5 separate regions of the Homo sapiens genome follow, and all the other regions are reported to be linked to region 4. Evidence: microRNA targets listed by miRTarBase, many of them from high-throughput screens and not tested one by one. Region 4 holds a microRNA gene; each other region holds the end of a gene's coding sequence.

Region 1 (3,167 bases), not on the chromosome of region 4:
TGGGAGCAGCGGCTGTGTTGCGGGAGAGCCAAATCCAGGTAACTTCTTTCTTCCCACACCCATTTCTCCCTGTCATCTCTGTGCCCTCCTTTCCCACCGTGCACCACCACCTTTCTCTCCTTTCCTCCTCTCTGTGTGTCCTTCATCTCTCTCTGCCCCCCATTGCTTCTGCCCGTCTCCCTCCATTTCTCTTGATCTCATCCCTCTCTTCCCCCTTATTTTGTTCTCTCTCTTCCTATCTCTCTCTCTCTCCCCCTCATCTCTCTCTCTCCTCCCCCTTTCTCCTCCCCTCCCCTCCCCTCATTTCATCTCTGTATCCTGGTCTCTCCTCCCCACAGACGCGGCCCCCTCACCTTCACCACCCGCACGGTGCGCCAGGTCTTCCGACTAGAGGAGGGCGTGGCATCCGACGAGGAGGCAGAGGAAGCACAGCCTGGGTCTGGGCCATCCCCGGAGCCTGAGGGGTCCCCACCAGCCCACCCCCAGTGACCCTACCCTGTCCCCAGATGCACTAACAGATGGGGCCCAGCCCCCTTCCTCCCTGGACCCCACGGGCCCCTGTCCCAGGAACCCCGCCCTCTGACTTCTTGCCCTTTGGAAATGGTGCAGCACTCTGGCATTTATCACCCCCACCTGGGTCCCCTGCAACCTCCCATCAAAGGATGACCCCTAAACACAGAGGAGCGGGGCAGGCAGGGAGGCAATGACTGGAGCTACCTTGCTTGTTGGGGGACTGGGTACAGTTGGCAAGCTGTGTTTCCATCAGCTCCCTGTCCTCCTTTCTTCCCTCGTTATTGATCTATAGACATTAGGAAGGGAGTGAGACGGCTCCTCCACCATCCTCAGCCAGTGCAACCCATTCCCTCTGCTTCTCTCTCTCTCTCTCTCTCTCCCTCCCTCTCCTTCCCTACCCTCTCACCATCTTTCTTGGCCTCTCTGAGGGTCTCTCTGTGCATCTTTTTAGGAATCTCGCTCTCACTCTCTACGTAGCCACTCTCCTTCCCCCATTTCTGCGTCCACCCCTGAACTCCTGAGCGACAGAAGCCCCAGGCCTCCACCAGCCTTGAACCCTTGCAAAGGGGCAGGACAAGGGGACCCCTCTCACTCCTGCTGCTGCCCATGCTCTGCCCTCCCTTCTGGTTGCTCTGAGGGTTCGGAGCTTCCCTCTGGGACTAAAGGAGTGTCCTTTACCCTCCCAGCCTCCAGGCTCTGGCAGAAATAAACTCCAACCCGACTGGACCATCTCTGTGGCTGTGTGTGTTCCTGCAGGGGGTCTCTGATGGGGCAGGATGGGCACAGGCTGCTTCAGCCTGCTAGGGCAGCAGGTCAGGCAGCCTGCTGGTTAGAATGACACCTGCGTGGGTATACAGGGACATCCTGTGGATCAGGCGCTTCATAACTCCTTTCCTCCTGACTCCAGTGTATAATGGAAATATTCCCTGCATTATACAGATGAGGGAACAGTCTCAGAGCAGCAGCATCCCTCACTCCACGCCCCCAGTGAGTGCTAGAAGGGGTGTTGCACTCGGGCCAACTCTTAAGTTTTGCAAAATAAATGACAGGCCTGCTGCAGTGGCTCATACCTGTGATCCCAGTGCTTCGGGAGGCTGAGGTGGGAGGATCACTTGAGCCCAGGGGGTGGAGGCTGCAGTGAGCTATGATTGCATCACTGCACTGTAGCATGGGTGAAGAGTGAGATCCTGTCCCAAAAGCAAAACAAAACAAAAAGACAGCCGTGGTCGTTTGTGCTGCGTGCTGTGCTAAGCACACAGTTTATCTTAACCCTTACATAGCACTACAGGTAGAGATTTCATTGCACTCCAGTGCCTAGAACAGTGTCTGGCACACAGCAGGCATTCACTCAATATTTGCTGAATAACTAAGTGATGCCCCTCCCACCCTTTTAGAGTGGTGGAAACAGGCTCAGAGAGGCTGAGTGACTTGCCCAAGGACACACAGCTACTAAGAAGTTGAAACAGTTTGAACCCAGACAGTCTGGCCTCAGAGTCAGCACATATAGAGGCTGAGCCCTCAGCCCCTGACCCCACCTTGGGGACCCAGGTCTGTCTCTCTCGTGGGAACTAGGCACCCTCGTGTGGGGGCTCACGTTCGTCAGACTGAGTCCTCAGTGACTTTTCAGTTAGAGGTGTGGATCCCCATTTTTACTATCAGGGAAACTGAGGCAGGTGCTTGCCCTAAATAAGGTGCAAGCCGTGGAGCAGATGTCACGATCACCAAAGCCCATCCTCCCCTTTTTTAAAAAATTGAGAAAGGGTCTCACTCTGTCACCCAGGCTGGAGTGCGGTGGCACAATCATAGCTCCCTGCAGCCTCGACCTCCCAGGCTCAAGCGATCCTCTCGCCTCAGCCTCCAGAGTAGCTGGGACTACAGATGCCACCACACCTGGCTAATTTTATTTTATTTTTTGTAAAGACAGGGTCTCTCTTGTGTTGCCCAGCCTGGTCTTGAACTCCTGGCCTCAAGCGATCTTCCTGCGTCCTTGGCCTCCCAAAGTGCTTGGATTACTGGCCTGAGCCACTGTGCCCAGCAATAGGGCCCCACTCTAGAAGTCCCAATCCCTCTGTGCGCCCCAGCCGCAATCAGGAGACTTTCCGAACAGGCACACAGGAGGCCATTTTTAAATGAAAAGGAAACGTTTATTTTGGTGGGGAGTGAGGGTGGGTGGGAAGGGGGCATGACACTTTTTCTTTGGGGAGAGGGGGGTGACATGCGGCAGCTTCTGCATTGGGCGGTTCATGCACCCAGGGTGGGCGTGGGGGAGGCTTGGGGAAGGGGCCACGCCGACCCCTCCCTCCCTGCCCTGCGGGTGGGCTGAGAAGACCCGCCATTAGCACCAGAGTTGGACGATTTGCAGACCTCCCCTCCCCACACTGTCTCCGAACCCCGCCCCCATCCCTGAGAGCGCCCCCTCACCACTCCCCCCACCAGCGACAGGCTAGGCCCGCCCCGCCCACATTTGAGTGAGAGAAACTTATTGCTCTGTGTGTGTGTGTGTGTGTGTTGGGGAGGGTGAGCCGCGGAGCTCAGGAAGACCCCCCGCCATTCATTCCTCCCCAATCGCCCCGCCCCCTGGCCCGTGTCCGTGCGTTCCCGGAGCGCAGGAGGGGTGCGACATGCGTGTGGGGGGCGCGTCATGCAGCGCATGC
Region 2 (3,000 bases), not on the chromosome of region 4:
CCGGCATCAGCACTCACCCCAGAAGGGGAAGCCACCAGCGTGACCTTGGTAGAGGAGCTGAGCCTGCAGGAGGCAATGAGAAAGGAGCCAGGAGAGAGCAGCAGCAGAAAGGCCTGCGAAGTGTGTGGCCAGGCCTTTCCCTCCCAGGCAGCTCTGGAGGAGCATCAGAAGACCCACCCCAAGGAGGGGCCGCTCTTCACTTGTGTTTTCTGCAGGCAGGGCTTTCTTGAGCGGGCTACCCTCAAGAAGCATATGCTCCTGGCACACCACCAGGTACAGCCCTTTGCCCCCCATGGCCCTCAGAATATTGCTGCTCTTTCTCTAGTCCCTGGCTGTTCGCCTTCCATCACCTCCACAGGGCTCTCCCCCTTTCCCCGAAAAGATGACCCCACGATCCCATGAGCCTGTTTTTCTGTACCTGCTGCTCTTTGTCCCACAGAGCAGAAACAGCTTCACAAAAGGACCTCCCAGAGTTATGAGCCCTGATTTTGTCTTTTTCTCTAAGTTCTTAACATGTTATGTCCCTAGTGGCTTTTCTGTAGTCCCTGAGCTTGGAAATTACTGTGCTTACAAGGGGATGGCCCCCTAAGGAATTTTTCTTCCCTCCTCATTCTTTGTACCTGAGGAACATAGATTCTCTGCAGCTTTCTCAAGGGGAACCCTCTCCAGCTTCCCTGGTGTGACCCTTCTTCCCCCTCCTCTCTCCTCTCCCTTTCCCTTTGGTAGGTGCACCTGAGCACCTACATTTGGCATTGCAGCCTAGCCAAAAAGGGCTGGCAGCTGTCTCTGGAGGGCCCAGTGCCACTCCTCTGGGGTGACCTTTCTGCTCAGCTGGTGGGTATGGGTCCCCTATCTTTCTAGAACCAGTATGTGGCATTCCTGTCAAATGGCCTGCCCATGAAGCCCTGGAATTCCAGCTCCACCTCCACTACCACTCCAAGCCTGGCCCCACCAGTGCTGTTTGGCCTAGGAACTGTGGCTGGGAAGGTGCCTCCAACAATGGGATCCAGGGAAGCCAAGGAGAAGACAGCCCCCCTCCTATTTCAGCCTCCTGCACCCAAGGCAGTGCCTGAGAAGCCCATCATAGACAAGAAGTAGCAAACTGTACATTCCTTCTTCCTCCCCCTGCTCCAGAAGGTGCCGGTACTGAAGATGCTCCAGTAATTGGTGACCCAACCCTAGGAAGTAGGGAGAAATGAAGGAAGGGCATAGGAAAATTTTCCCAGTAAATCCCCTGATGGTCACATTAAGGTAAAGGTTTTGGCTGGTCAGTGTGCCAAGACCTCTCCAGCTTCTCATTCATGATGACCTCTCAAAGTTGGGAAACAAGCTGATTTCTTGCCAAGAGGTCTCCCAGGAGATATTTGGGAAATGTGAAGTTCGTATCTTTAAGGAGCATTTTTGGTCAGCATGGTTGATGAACTAATGATGAGAGAGTTAAGGAATGTTGCTAGAACATAGGGCTTGCTGGTACCTATGTGACTAAGAAAGGGACATGATGTAAGGGAAAAGGCCTCAAATTCTTGTGAATGTCTGGACATTCTCGTTAATATTCTTTTGGGCTAATAGTGACATAGTGTGCAGAGGTGTACCAGGGATCATGGGGGATTTCCTAGCACTAGTATGCTTCTAGTTTTAGATAACTCCCTCCTTTATTCCCTGGCCCCTTGTATTTTCCTTATCTTCCTCTTTCAAGACCCCTACCCATTTTGCCTATCCGTAGGCTGGGGCTTGTGTCTTTGTCATTGTCTGGTTCTTAAGAGTCCCAGACTTTGGGAGACCAGCTCCAGGTGGCGTCCTCCCTGCCTCTCCGTCTTGTAATGAGTTGTAGTATTTACTCTTAACATAGGATCATTTGGAACAGGAGTTCTGAGGAGGAGAGAGTGAGGGTTTTGCTATTGACTGACTTGAACGATGGCTTCTCCTCAAGCTGTAGGCTCCAGAGCTTCCTAACCTAGTAAAATGTCAAGAACAGACGGGAGATATTAGTGTCTTTCCCTCTATCATTAAAGGTGTTTTAACCAAATATTTATGTGTTTCTCCTTATTTCATGATTACATAGCCAGCTGGGGTGTGATATGGGCATTCCCCAAAATTGAGATTCCCTTCCCACCTACATCTCCTGCCAAAGCTGAACATATGGTGTTGAAATATTTACTTTATTCAGCCTTGTCCTAAGACAACCTTCAGTTAATGTAACTTCTCTGTGGAAATTGTTCCCTGTGGAGTTTGTATTTCCAAAAGGTAGGCATTTGCCCACTGTGTCCAGTCATTGTCTAGATTTTCTCTACCTAGAACCTTCCACCACCAGGCTTTTCTGTGGGTTTTGTTTGGAGGTTGGAAACTGTTTCTTTTCCGTCTTTCTCAAACCACAGATCAGCCTTCTGACATCAGCGAATCTGTAGAACCAAGGTGAATTAAACTTTATGATCCTTGAGATCTGATGTCATAATCAGAAAGAAAAAAATGTAATTCAACCCTAATAATTTCTACCAACAAGACAAAGGAGGATTCTTATCATTAGGAATTCAGAGGAAGCACATAGGGGTGGGGTCAAATAAAACATATATTTTTTTTTCCCTGTCACAATGGCTCACGTCTGTAACTTCAACAGTTTGGGAGGTCAAGACAGGCCTATTGCTTGAGCCCAGGAGTTTGAGACCAGCCTGGGCAACATGGCAAAACACTGCCTCTTCCAAAAATACAAAAATTAGCTGGATGTGGTGGTGCACACCTATGGTCCCAGCTAATCAGGAGTCTGAGGTGGGAGGATTACCTGAGTCCAAGGAGACTGATTTGTAAGATTATAATATCATTGACTCTTAGTGCTAAAGGGATGGAACTGGTAAAATGATTTGCCCAAAGTCACTCAGTGGCAAAGTTGGATTAAGAACCCAGGTAGGGCCAGCCACAGTGATTCACGCCTATAATACCAGCGCTTTGGAAGGCCAATGCGGGTGGGATCGCTGGAGCCCAGGAGTTCAAGACATGCCTGGAAAA
Region 3 (3,167 bases), not on the chromosome of region 4:
ATTTAAAGAAAAAAATTAAAAAGTAAAAAGAAAAGCCTATTTATCTTTCATATTAACTCCAATAATTATTTCTAGATTTGTGGGAAATACAGGAAAAAAAAAAGGCTAAGAGAATAAACAACTGCACCTTTCTGCTCCTGTGAATGAGAAAAGACAACTATTAGTACTTAAAGGTTTTACTCTTTAAAAACAATACAGCATAAGCACTCATAGTAGTAGTTACAGCAACATGGACCACTCTTTCCTCCTAGGGGATAGAAGATAATCAGACACTTAGCAAAGATGCTATTAGTATCTGGGAATTTGCCCCCAACTTTCAGAAAGACACTAAATTTAATCCATAGGAAAACATCTTTCAGAGTATTAGTTTCTAAAGTTTCCCTTTCAGCCCTACTTTTTGCAGCCTTTTTCACAGCCAATGGCAGATACAGGTGCAATAAGTAATTTCTGTGGTACTTATTCACTTGGGAGATTTTGGTGATAGTAAAACATTTTCTTTGAAAGTCATGTTTGTTCTTTTCACCAAACAGCAACTCTTAAAAGAATTTTCACTTATTTTTCCATGGAAAAACACTGAGGATATAATTTTTTTAAAAGAGCATTATTCAATGTTGACCTTCAAAAGCTGATTGTAAAATACCTCATCATATAATCTACAGCCAGAGAGTAACTCAGCAATTGTGTAGTCCAGCATTTCTACAACCTAGGTATCCACATGTACCTTAGGATGACATTGGCAGGTAGTGTGAGGAGCTAGGGGAATGGGGGGTGGTGGCAAGAATAACAAATAGTGGTACATGCTAAATTTAGTTTAGAAAATTCTGGGTTAATTCGATAAATATTTAAGGAACATCAATTACATGCCAGGCTGTCTACTAGATGCAGAGTAAGACAGATTTATACCAGAATTTTCTTAAAGCCTCGAACAAGCTACTGTTCACAATGAGCACAGTGACCATATATCCTAATTTGCTGTAGACAGCCCCAGTTTACAGGCGCTATTCCAGCATTAATATCATCTCTTTTTACCTCTATAATCCTACATATGACTCTCTAAGAGGTGTGTGTGTGTGTGTGTGTGTGTGTGTGTGTGTGTGTATGTGTGTAGCAAACAGATTTTCCTAAACTTAGATGGCCAATTACATACTTATACCTACATTCCTACGATTATCTCCTAAAACAGTGATCTTGGTCCACAGAACATAGTTTGGGGTCTACTACATTCTTATCATTTGATAGCTGAGGAAACAAAGGATCTGAGAATTAAATAGACTCAGCTAGAAAACGGCAGACATGGGATACTAAAGCCTAGGACTCCTGGCTCATAGAGATAGCTCTAATGCCCTTTCTGATATATCACAGACTGTGATACTAAAGCACCCTTAACATGATGTTAACAAGTTCTACTACAAAAATAAGTCAGCAAGTTTCACATTTTAATTTCATTTTAAAGGAAGTTCATTTTGTTCTTTTTCAATCATAACTGTAAAATTAATCAAAAACAGAGTCAATGAGAAAATATTATCTTTTAGGCAACTCTTCAAGACTATAAGCCCAGTTCACTTATTCCTACACTCTCCTTTCCCTCCCCTCACTCTCTATTAAATATAAAGTAGCTGATTTCTTTATGTCTTTATAGTATCATTGGCTTCACAGGTGTGTGCTGGGGTGGGGGAGGAGAAGTTAATTCTATCCATCAATCAACAACATTTTCAGTGTCTACCACAAAGCGTTCTGCTATAATATTTTACTCACATTGTGGTTCCAAGTGTTTTTTTTTTTAAAGTGAGGATACTATAATAGTGCCTTGGGCCATATGGTACTTACACAAATTCCAAGCAGTCAAATTACAATATAATTCCATTATTATTTTTAGGTTTCTATAAGCTTACTAACAGAGGCCATTTTCTGATTCTGGTTGCACCAAAAGGTATGGCCCTAGAAAAAAAATCATGCAAAGAATTTTATCTTTAAAAATTAGTTATTCAAATTTTTGATCATCCATGGCACTGATATTTCTAGCTAACTGCTATGCATTTTAAGCAACTTACACAGTTCTTCCAGAGAAAAAGGAGTGAATGATCATATAGTCTTTAAAAAGAAAGCCTATGAGCTAAGAAATAGAATAGCCTGTTCTGAAAAAGGAAAAAGTAGAAAATGTTAGTGAAAACAGGGTTTAAACCCTTAGGAAATTCATTTCTGTATAGGATATCATTTTGTTCATCACCAAGAAAAGGTAGTCAATATTAATTAAATCTTACACAGGCAAGATAACCAGTTAAGTAGATGAGAAGAAAATTGCAAGGTGAGTAAGGCAAAAAAAACATTTCTAGAAAGGAACTATTCTTGGATTTGCAGATGGAATATGAGGTGTACATGTAACAGAATATCCTTGTCACATATTGGAAGTTGTGATTGTGTGACAGAGCTCTAATGTTTGTAACACAGCAGACTCTTCTGTAATAATTATTTTAAAAGGCTTGCCTATGATAATTTACCATTTGAAGTAATGAACTTATTCAAGTATAACTATTGTACTTAGTTATAATCCCATTTTTTTTAAAAAAAGGAATACAGATATTGATCACATCAAACATTTTCATTGAGAAATTGACACGGACACTAATGAGGTTTATCATGGATGGTCTCAGAAGCTTTCCTGTGTATGTGAAGCAGAACTACAGGCCTTTTTGTATAAGTTCCTGTACATCTTGTCCATGCTGTTCTCAAAGATGGGTCGGTGGGATTTTCCCTTATAAGAGGCTGCCCTGTTGGACCAGTATTCACCGTCATCCAAATGGAAAGTGCCACGTGGCTGCTGACATGAGCTATAAAAAGGGATATAAAAGGTTCAAAACAATAATGAAACAAAATTAGAGATAGTACTATGTAAATCAAATATTTATTGAGTACTCTATGGCTATTTAATTCTCTGCTGGGGCTGTGAAAAATAAAACAGAGTAAGGCCTGTGCTTTCAAAGAGGGACATTTTAAAAGGGGAGGCAGAAGTATCTGTGTAAAACTGTTATAAAACAGTAAAATGAAAATTTTGTGTTAGAGTGAAAAAGGAATTCAGAGAACAGACACAGGTACAGCATAATAAAAGCAGAACATAATAAAAGCAGTTCTTATACTGGCCTGGTATGGCCAGTATAAGAATGCACAGC
Region 4 (3,159 bases):
ATGAGTATATAATTTATGAAAACAGAAAAGTGCTTTGGAAAAAAAAAAAAAGACAACAGGAGTACATACAGTGAACCAAAAAGAGTGTACCAGGAGGAGCAGACCCTGAACAGTTAGAACTATGGAAATCGCTATGCTTTGTGTTGTCACAGGAGTTAAAATAGGAATACCCTGCATACAATAAATATTTATTGGATAAATAACTAAGCCTGATACCCTTTTCAATGCGTTATACAGACTCTATCATCACACCACTAATCTAAGTTCTCAGAAGTTAAACATTACAAGACTTCAGAACAACATAGGCGTCTTTGGCTCCATTTAACAGAAGAAGGACCATAGTGATCATTTAATCTCTATGAGTCTGTCTTATCTTCTGGAAAAGGGGCCTAACACCATTTCCTTTTGCAAAAAGGTAGCTGCCTTGCTTCCAGTTCTACCATCCTCTAGCAACCCATCTTTCTCTTATTTGATGTCTCTGATCAGCTCCTCTTCCAGCACAAACTGGAGAAAGGGGATCCTTTCTGTTTTCTTGGAGGCTTCTGAACTCAATTACAGGTCTGCATTAAAAATGTATGGAGAAAGCTGGTGATCAGTTTGTACATATGGACAAGTTCAAGGCAGTATGGTCTACTTCTGGGAAGGCCTGGATTCCATTTGCTCCTGATGGAAAAACCCTAGTCCCAGCAGTGTTTAGAATGAACTGGAGAAGGCAGATGGGTACCAGATTCAGGAAGAGGTACTGATAGACCAAGACCAGTTCTTTCTGTTTTAAAGATGTGTTATCTCAATCTCCTCCAATGCTCCCTTTGGAAATTCACAGAAGATTAGGGCTCCCCACAGAAACAGCAGCTGGCCTGGGCTGGTCTTCTGACTAACTGGAGCTGAATACAAAAAGTCTGATGGGTTGACTGAGTCGGTGACTGCCAATTGGAGCCTGAAGCCCCCAAAGTCTTCTCTAGACTTGATGATGAAGCACCAGTTACAGTTCTCCCAGCTCGCCTTCCATTGCCCGCACCATGACATACAGCTCGGCCAGACCCACCACAGAGGCGACGATCAATGCAGCTAGCACCCGCTGGAGATGGGGAGAACCAGGCTTAAGGGATGCAGGCCAACAACCAGCTCTGTACCCCAGCAACTTTAATGAGGATGGAGAGCCCCCCAACCACCCTCTAAGTTGGGGGAGGGGAAGAAAAGAGAATGTGGCTTCTCCTGGGGTTATTACCTAACCTCCCGTGACTGCTGGAAAGCTCTAATGCTCCCCTTATTAATGGCATAAATATCTGTTCAATACCTAACCTGTGCAAGGCACTTTCACATACGTCCTCCCTTACCCACTAACACCCCCACCAGGGGCACCCTGCCCTGCCCAGTGCCTACTCACCGAGGCCATTTCTGTGAAGATATATTGGCTTCCAAGGTAAGTGCAGACGAAGGCAGCAACCACCGTGACAATGAAATTGAAGATGGTGATGACCAGAGCCTTCAATGATCTCACTTTGGGGAGGAGCCAGAGAGGGCACCTTTAGTTCAACATTCTCTAGGAGGTGCTCTTATCTCATGGCTCCCCCACCAACTGGGTTTCAGTCAAACAACAAGCCTGAGTGTCATGACCCATCTCAGGAAAAGGTTTTAGAAGCCTGATCTCCTAGTACCTCACCTTGCTTTCCCAGGTCGCTGAGAGTCCCACCATGTCTTGTATCCTGGGAAAAAGAAAAAGAAGATGATTCAGAATAGAAGCAGCTCAGAGAGCATCCATTGACAGTCTGGCTCAGCCCTCTCTATTCCCCAACATATTAACTCTGCCCTCCCCATGGATTCTTTTGTCTGGAACCATTTTGACTCTTTTCTGGACTACAGAGCAGGCATTTCGGAGAGAGGACATAGGCTGCCAGTACCCATCTACTCTCCTGTTCCAGGGTAGGAGCATGCCATAGAGTAGTAGGGAGCCCTGTCAGAAGAAATGCTCGAATGGCTGGGCACAGTGGCTCACCTTGTAATCCCAGCACTTTGGGAGGCCGAGGCAGGAGGATCACCTTGAGGCTGGGAGTTCAAGACCAGCCTGGCCAACGTGGTCTCTACTAAAAATACAAAAAATTAGCCTGGCGTGGTGGTGCATGCCTGTAATCCCAGCTACTTGGGAGGCTGAGGCATAAGAATCACTTAAACCTGGAAGGCGGAGGCCGCAGTGAGCAGAGATCCTGCCACTGCCCTCCAGCCTGGGTGACAGAGTGAGACTCCATCTCAAAAAAAAAAAAGAAGAAGAAAAAAAGCCTCCAAGATTCATTCCCACTTATTTATTTATTTATTTATTTATTTTGAGATGGAGTCTTGCTCTTGTTGCTCAGGCTGGAGTGCAATGGTGCAGTGTTGGCTCACAGCAGCCTCTGCCTCCGCCTCCTGGGTTCAAGTGATTCTCCTGCCTCAGCCTCTCGAGTAGCTGGGATTACAGGTGCCCGCCACCACGCCAGGCTAAGTTTTGTATTTTTTGTAAAGACGGGGTTTCACCATGTTGGCCAGGCTGGTCACGAACTCCCGACCTCAAGTGATCCACCTACCTCAGCCTCCCAAAGTGCTAGGATTACAGGCATGAGCGCCGTGCCCGGCTAACTCCCACTTCTATGACGTTTAAAACTTGGTCACCATCTCAGCCCAGAGTCTCAGTGAATGAGATGGGAACTGTGTTGTTTGTATGCAGACTTCCTATGGTCCCTGAACAGTATAGAAACCAAGTTTCCATGTTTTTTCTAAACTCTGTATCTTCTTCCACTGCAGGGCCCTACTCTGAGGGGCTACCTAGACCACGTACTGAAGAGCATGTCCTTACCTGACAAGTGACGTTGCGGGTGATCCGTTTATATTCCTCATTGGCCAGCTGTATCTTAATCTTCTCCAGCCGGGCAACTAGTTCTGGGTTCTGAAGCAGAAAAATCAAATGAGAAGAATGATATTCCCAGCTTGTTAGAAAGCACATCACAATCATTGGTTCCAGGGGTAAAGCACTGCTAAAGGTATCAGGAGACCCACATACTAGTCGTAACTCCAGTGCTTTGAAACTGTTTTTTTTTTTTTTGATCTCAATTTTCCAAACAGCTGATGGGGAGGACAATATCTGGCTCCCCCAGATCCCAAAGATTTCAAAAACAATTTTTCAAG
Region 5 (3,167 bases), not on the chromosome of region 4:
TGTGGAAGATCCTTTAGAAATTCCTCATCCTTTAATGTTCACATTCAAATTCACACTGGAATAAAACCACACAAATGTACGGAATGTGGGAAAGCCTTCACTAGATCAACTCACCTTACTCAACATGTAAGAACTCACACTGGAATAAAACCCTATGAATGTAAGGAATGTGGCCAAGCCTTCACTCAGTACACGGGCCTTGCTATACACATACGAAATCACACTGGAGAGAAACCCTATCAGTGTAAGGAATGTGGGAAAGCCTTCAATAGATCTTCAACGCTTACTCAACATAGAAGAATTCACACAGGAGAGAAGCCTTATGAATGTGTTGAATGTGGGAAGACCTTCATTACTTCTTCCCATCGTAGTAAACATTTGAAAACTCACAGTGGAGAAAGGTAAATGCAAGATATGTGGGAAAGAATTTCTGTATTCCTCACCCCACCTGTGAACTCCTACCAGAGAGAAACCTTTTGTATGTAAAGAATTTGGGAAAGCATTTGCTCTTTCCTCATGCCTAAGTATGCATGAAAGAATTCACACTGGGGAGAAATACTATGAATGTAAGGATATGAGTGTTGTTACCATTTAGCCCATTGGTTGCCATCTTTAATTATTGGCAGTGCAAAGATCATCAGATTAGTCCTAAATGCCTTTTGGAGGTTGTAATGGCTCACAGATTGGCCTTAGATGCATCCCGAGGGTCTGAAATTAAACCTACAGGTTCTGAATACAACATCATGGTTACCTGAGTCTGGGCATCTGTGAAGAAGGGTCATGGATGGTGAGGTCAGTACTGCAGGCTGCCTCACCTTGGTGATTAGATTCCTAAGATCATAGCATTAACAAGTTCTGTACGAGATAAATCATGCAGATTGATCCCAGCCCCTGTTGGTTAGTGGCTGCCAGTGTGGCACATTCATGTCAAAATTTACCAGAAGCCAAGATGATGTAGGCCCCAGAGGTGGATTGTTAAAAAGATGCTCCTCCAAGGTTCTCTTCTGTTCCCATGGATCCTGCAGAGCATGTCAGGAGTGAAACCATCCATAACTGCCAGTGCCCTTTCACAGCTGATTATTTCTATGTCCCCTTCTTGTAAAATAAGAAGTGTGACAACCTTGACTGTTCTGTTCTGTCTTCTCTGTCCATTTTAGGTGGCACAATGTAAGTGGCAGTGTCTCTTATAGTATAATCCAGTCTCTCTTCTCACTTCTGTTAAGATGGCTGATATAGTCCATGAATCCCACTCATGATCTCTTTATCAAATGATTGTTCAGCCACACTTTGAGGATTCTCTTCAGTACAAGTTTTCTAATTTTTGCAGTATGGATAGGCTGAGAATTTTCCAAATCTCCAAGTTCTGGTTCCTTTTTCCTTAACAATTTCTTCTGCAATTCAGGTCTCCTTTTGCATTTTTGCCGAGACCAGCTGGGTCGTGGAGACCCTAACCCAGTGGCTCTAGAGGAATTAAGACAAAGACACAGAAATATAGTGCAGAGTGGGAATCGGGGCTCACAGCCTTCAGAGCTGAGCTTGAACAGAGTTTGACCCACATATTTATTGACAGTAAGCCTGTGATAAACATTATTCCTATAGATTGTAGATCAGCTATAAGTATTCCTTATGAGAAAGAAAGGGACAGGCTCTGGCTTGTTATCTGCAACAGGAATATGTCCTTAAGGCACAAATCACTCATGCTATTGTTTGTGGTTTAGGAATGCCTTGAGCAGTTTTCCAGTTTTCTGCCCTGGGTGGGCCAGGTGTTGCTTGCCCTCATTCTGGTAAACCAGCAGCCTCCAGCATGGGCGTCATAGCCATCACGAGCATGTCACAGTGCTGCAGAGATTTTGTTTATGGCCAGTTTCTCATTGCCTGTTTATGGCCAGATTTGGGGGGCCTGTTCCCAGCACATTTTCCTGTAAGCACTCAGGAATAATGAAGCTTCCTGTGTCCTTTAACACTTTAATTACAGATCTTAGTGATACATACCATTTTATCTGTCTCAAGCTCTACCTTCCGTAAAATGCTAGAATACAGTTCTGCCAAGTTCTTCACCACTTTATATCAAGGGTTGTCTTTTCTTCATTTCCCAATAGCATGTTCCTCATTCCCCAATGACACCTCACCAGAATAACCCTTACCAACCTTATTTCCAGCTTGCACATCAGAATTTTTCCAGCCTCTACTCATTTGTCAGTTTCAAAGCTGCTTCACATTTTTAGTTTTTTTGTTTGTTTTTAATTGCAGTACCTCACTTCTCAGTACCAATATCTGCCTTAGTCAGCTCAGACAACCATAAGAGAATACCGCAGACCAAATGGCTTAGAAATTAATTTAATTTTAAATCAATGAGGTTAAAAACACAGGATTTTTTTTTTTTTTTTTTTTTTTTTTTTGAGATGGAGTTTTGCTCTTGTTGCCCAGGCTGGAGTGCAATGGTATGATCTTGGCTCACCGCAACCTCCACCTCCTGAGTTCCAGTGATTCTCCTGCCTCACCCTCAGTAGCTGGGATTATTGGCATGCACCACAAACCTTAGCTAAGTTTGTATTTTTAGTAGAGACAGGGTTTCTCCATGTTGGTTAGGCTGATCTCCATGTTGGTCAGATCTGACCTTTGGTGATCCACCTGCCTTGGCCTCCCAAAGTGCTGGGATTACAGGCCTGAGCCACCGTATCTGGCCCAAAACACAAATTTATATTCTCACATATCTGGAGGCTGGAAGTCTGAGATCAGAGTGCCAGCATGGTCAACCTCTAGTGAGAGCTCTCTTCCTGGCATGTAAGTGCCCACTTCCTCATGTTTTCACACGATGGAGACCAACAAATAGGTCGGTCGGTCTCCCCCCTCCCCGCCCCCTTCTCTTTTCACATACAGTCACATTGAGGTTTGGAACTTCATATGAAATTTGGGGGGTCACTGTGTGTGTGTGTGTGTGTGTGTGTATGTGTATATATATATACATATATATACACATATGTATGTATACCTAACTCCTAAAGTGGAACAGTAAGAGTCATTATTTATAGATTATCTGATTCTCTATGTGGAAAGAGAAAAGAATCATATTAAGTACTTTGGACTGAACAATGACCCCCAAAATTCGTATGATGATGAAGCTCTCTCTAAATATTTTCTTGCTTTACTGGACTGATTTTAACCCG

The links. Region 4 holds the annotated microRNA hsa-miR-4723-5p (UGGGGGAGCCAUGAGAUAAGAGCA, at 1,552-1,575, opposite strand). A microRNA usually pairs through its seed, bases 2 to 8, with sites in the 3' UTR of a target mRNA and lowers its output. Matches are read on the target gene's strand: a 7mer-m8 pairs with bases 2 to 8, a 7mer-A1 pairs with bases 2 to 7 and ends in A, and an 8mer does both.
Region 1: miRTarBase lists MYH14 as a target of hsa-miR-4723-5p. Seed matches in the 3' UTR shown: 7mer-A1 at 1,001-1,007.
Region 2: miRTarBase lists SALL2 as a target of hsa-miR-4723-5p. Seed matches in the 3' UTR shown: 7mer-m8 at 1,120-1,126.
Region 3: the mRNA of SPATA6 is a reported target of hsa-miR-4723-5p. Seed matches in the 3' UTR shown: 8mer at 1,670-1,677.
Region 5: the mRNA of ZNF562 is a reported target of hsa-miR-4723-5p. Seed matches in the 3' UTR shown: 7mer-m8 at 2,844-2,850.

Annotation. Positions count from the first base shown.
Region 1 is chr19:50,309,302-50,312,468 of GRCh38, forward strand. It overlaps MYH14 (myosin heavy chain 14), which reads left to right. Exons shown (of 43, transcript NM_001145809.2): 43 at 339-1,239. The coding sequence ends at 489. KCNC3 (potassium voltage-gated channel subfamily C member 3) reads right to left here. Exons shown (of 5, transcript NM_004977.3): 5 at 2,636-3,167. Among named protein-coding and RNA genes, the nearest start is that of KCNC3, 18 kb to the right of the region's middle.
Region 2 is chr14:21,520,106-21,523,105 of GRCh38, reverse strand. It overlaps SALL2 (spalt like transcription factor 2), which reads left to right. Exons shown (of 2, transcript NM_001364564.1): 2 at 1-2,026. The coding sequence ends at 402. Among named protein-coding and RNA genes, the nearest start is that of SALL2, 4.7 kb to the left of the region's middle.
Region 3 is chr1:48,296,066-48,299,232 of GRCh38, forward strand. It overlaps SPATA6 (spermatogenesis associated 6), which reads right to left. Exons shown (of 13, transcript NM_019073.4): 13 at 1-2,828. The coding sequence ends at 2,648. Among named protein-coding and RNA genes, the nearest start is that of SLC5A9, 75 kb to the left of the region's middle.
Region 4 is chr17:28,359,076-28,362,234 of GRCh38, reverse strand. MIR4723 (microRNA 4723) reads right to left here and starts at 1,581; the gene lies at 1,501-1,581. VMA12 (vacuolar ATPase assembly factor VMA12) reads right to left here. Exons shown (of 6, transcript NM_152464.3): 3 at 2,831-2,920; 4 at 1,664-1,706; 5 at 1,388-1,500; 6 at 1-1,078. The coding sequence ends at 983.
Region 5 is chr19:9,650,187-9,653,353 of GRCh38, reverse strand. ZNF562 (zinc finger protein 562) reads left to right here. Exons shown (of 6, transcript NM_001130031.2): 6 at 1-3,167. The coding sequence ends at 405. Among named protein-coding and RNA genes, the nearest start is that of ZNF562, 23 kb to the left of the region's middle.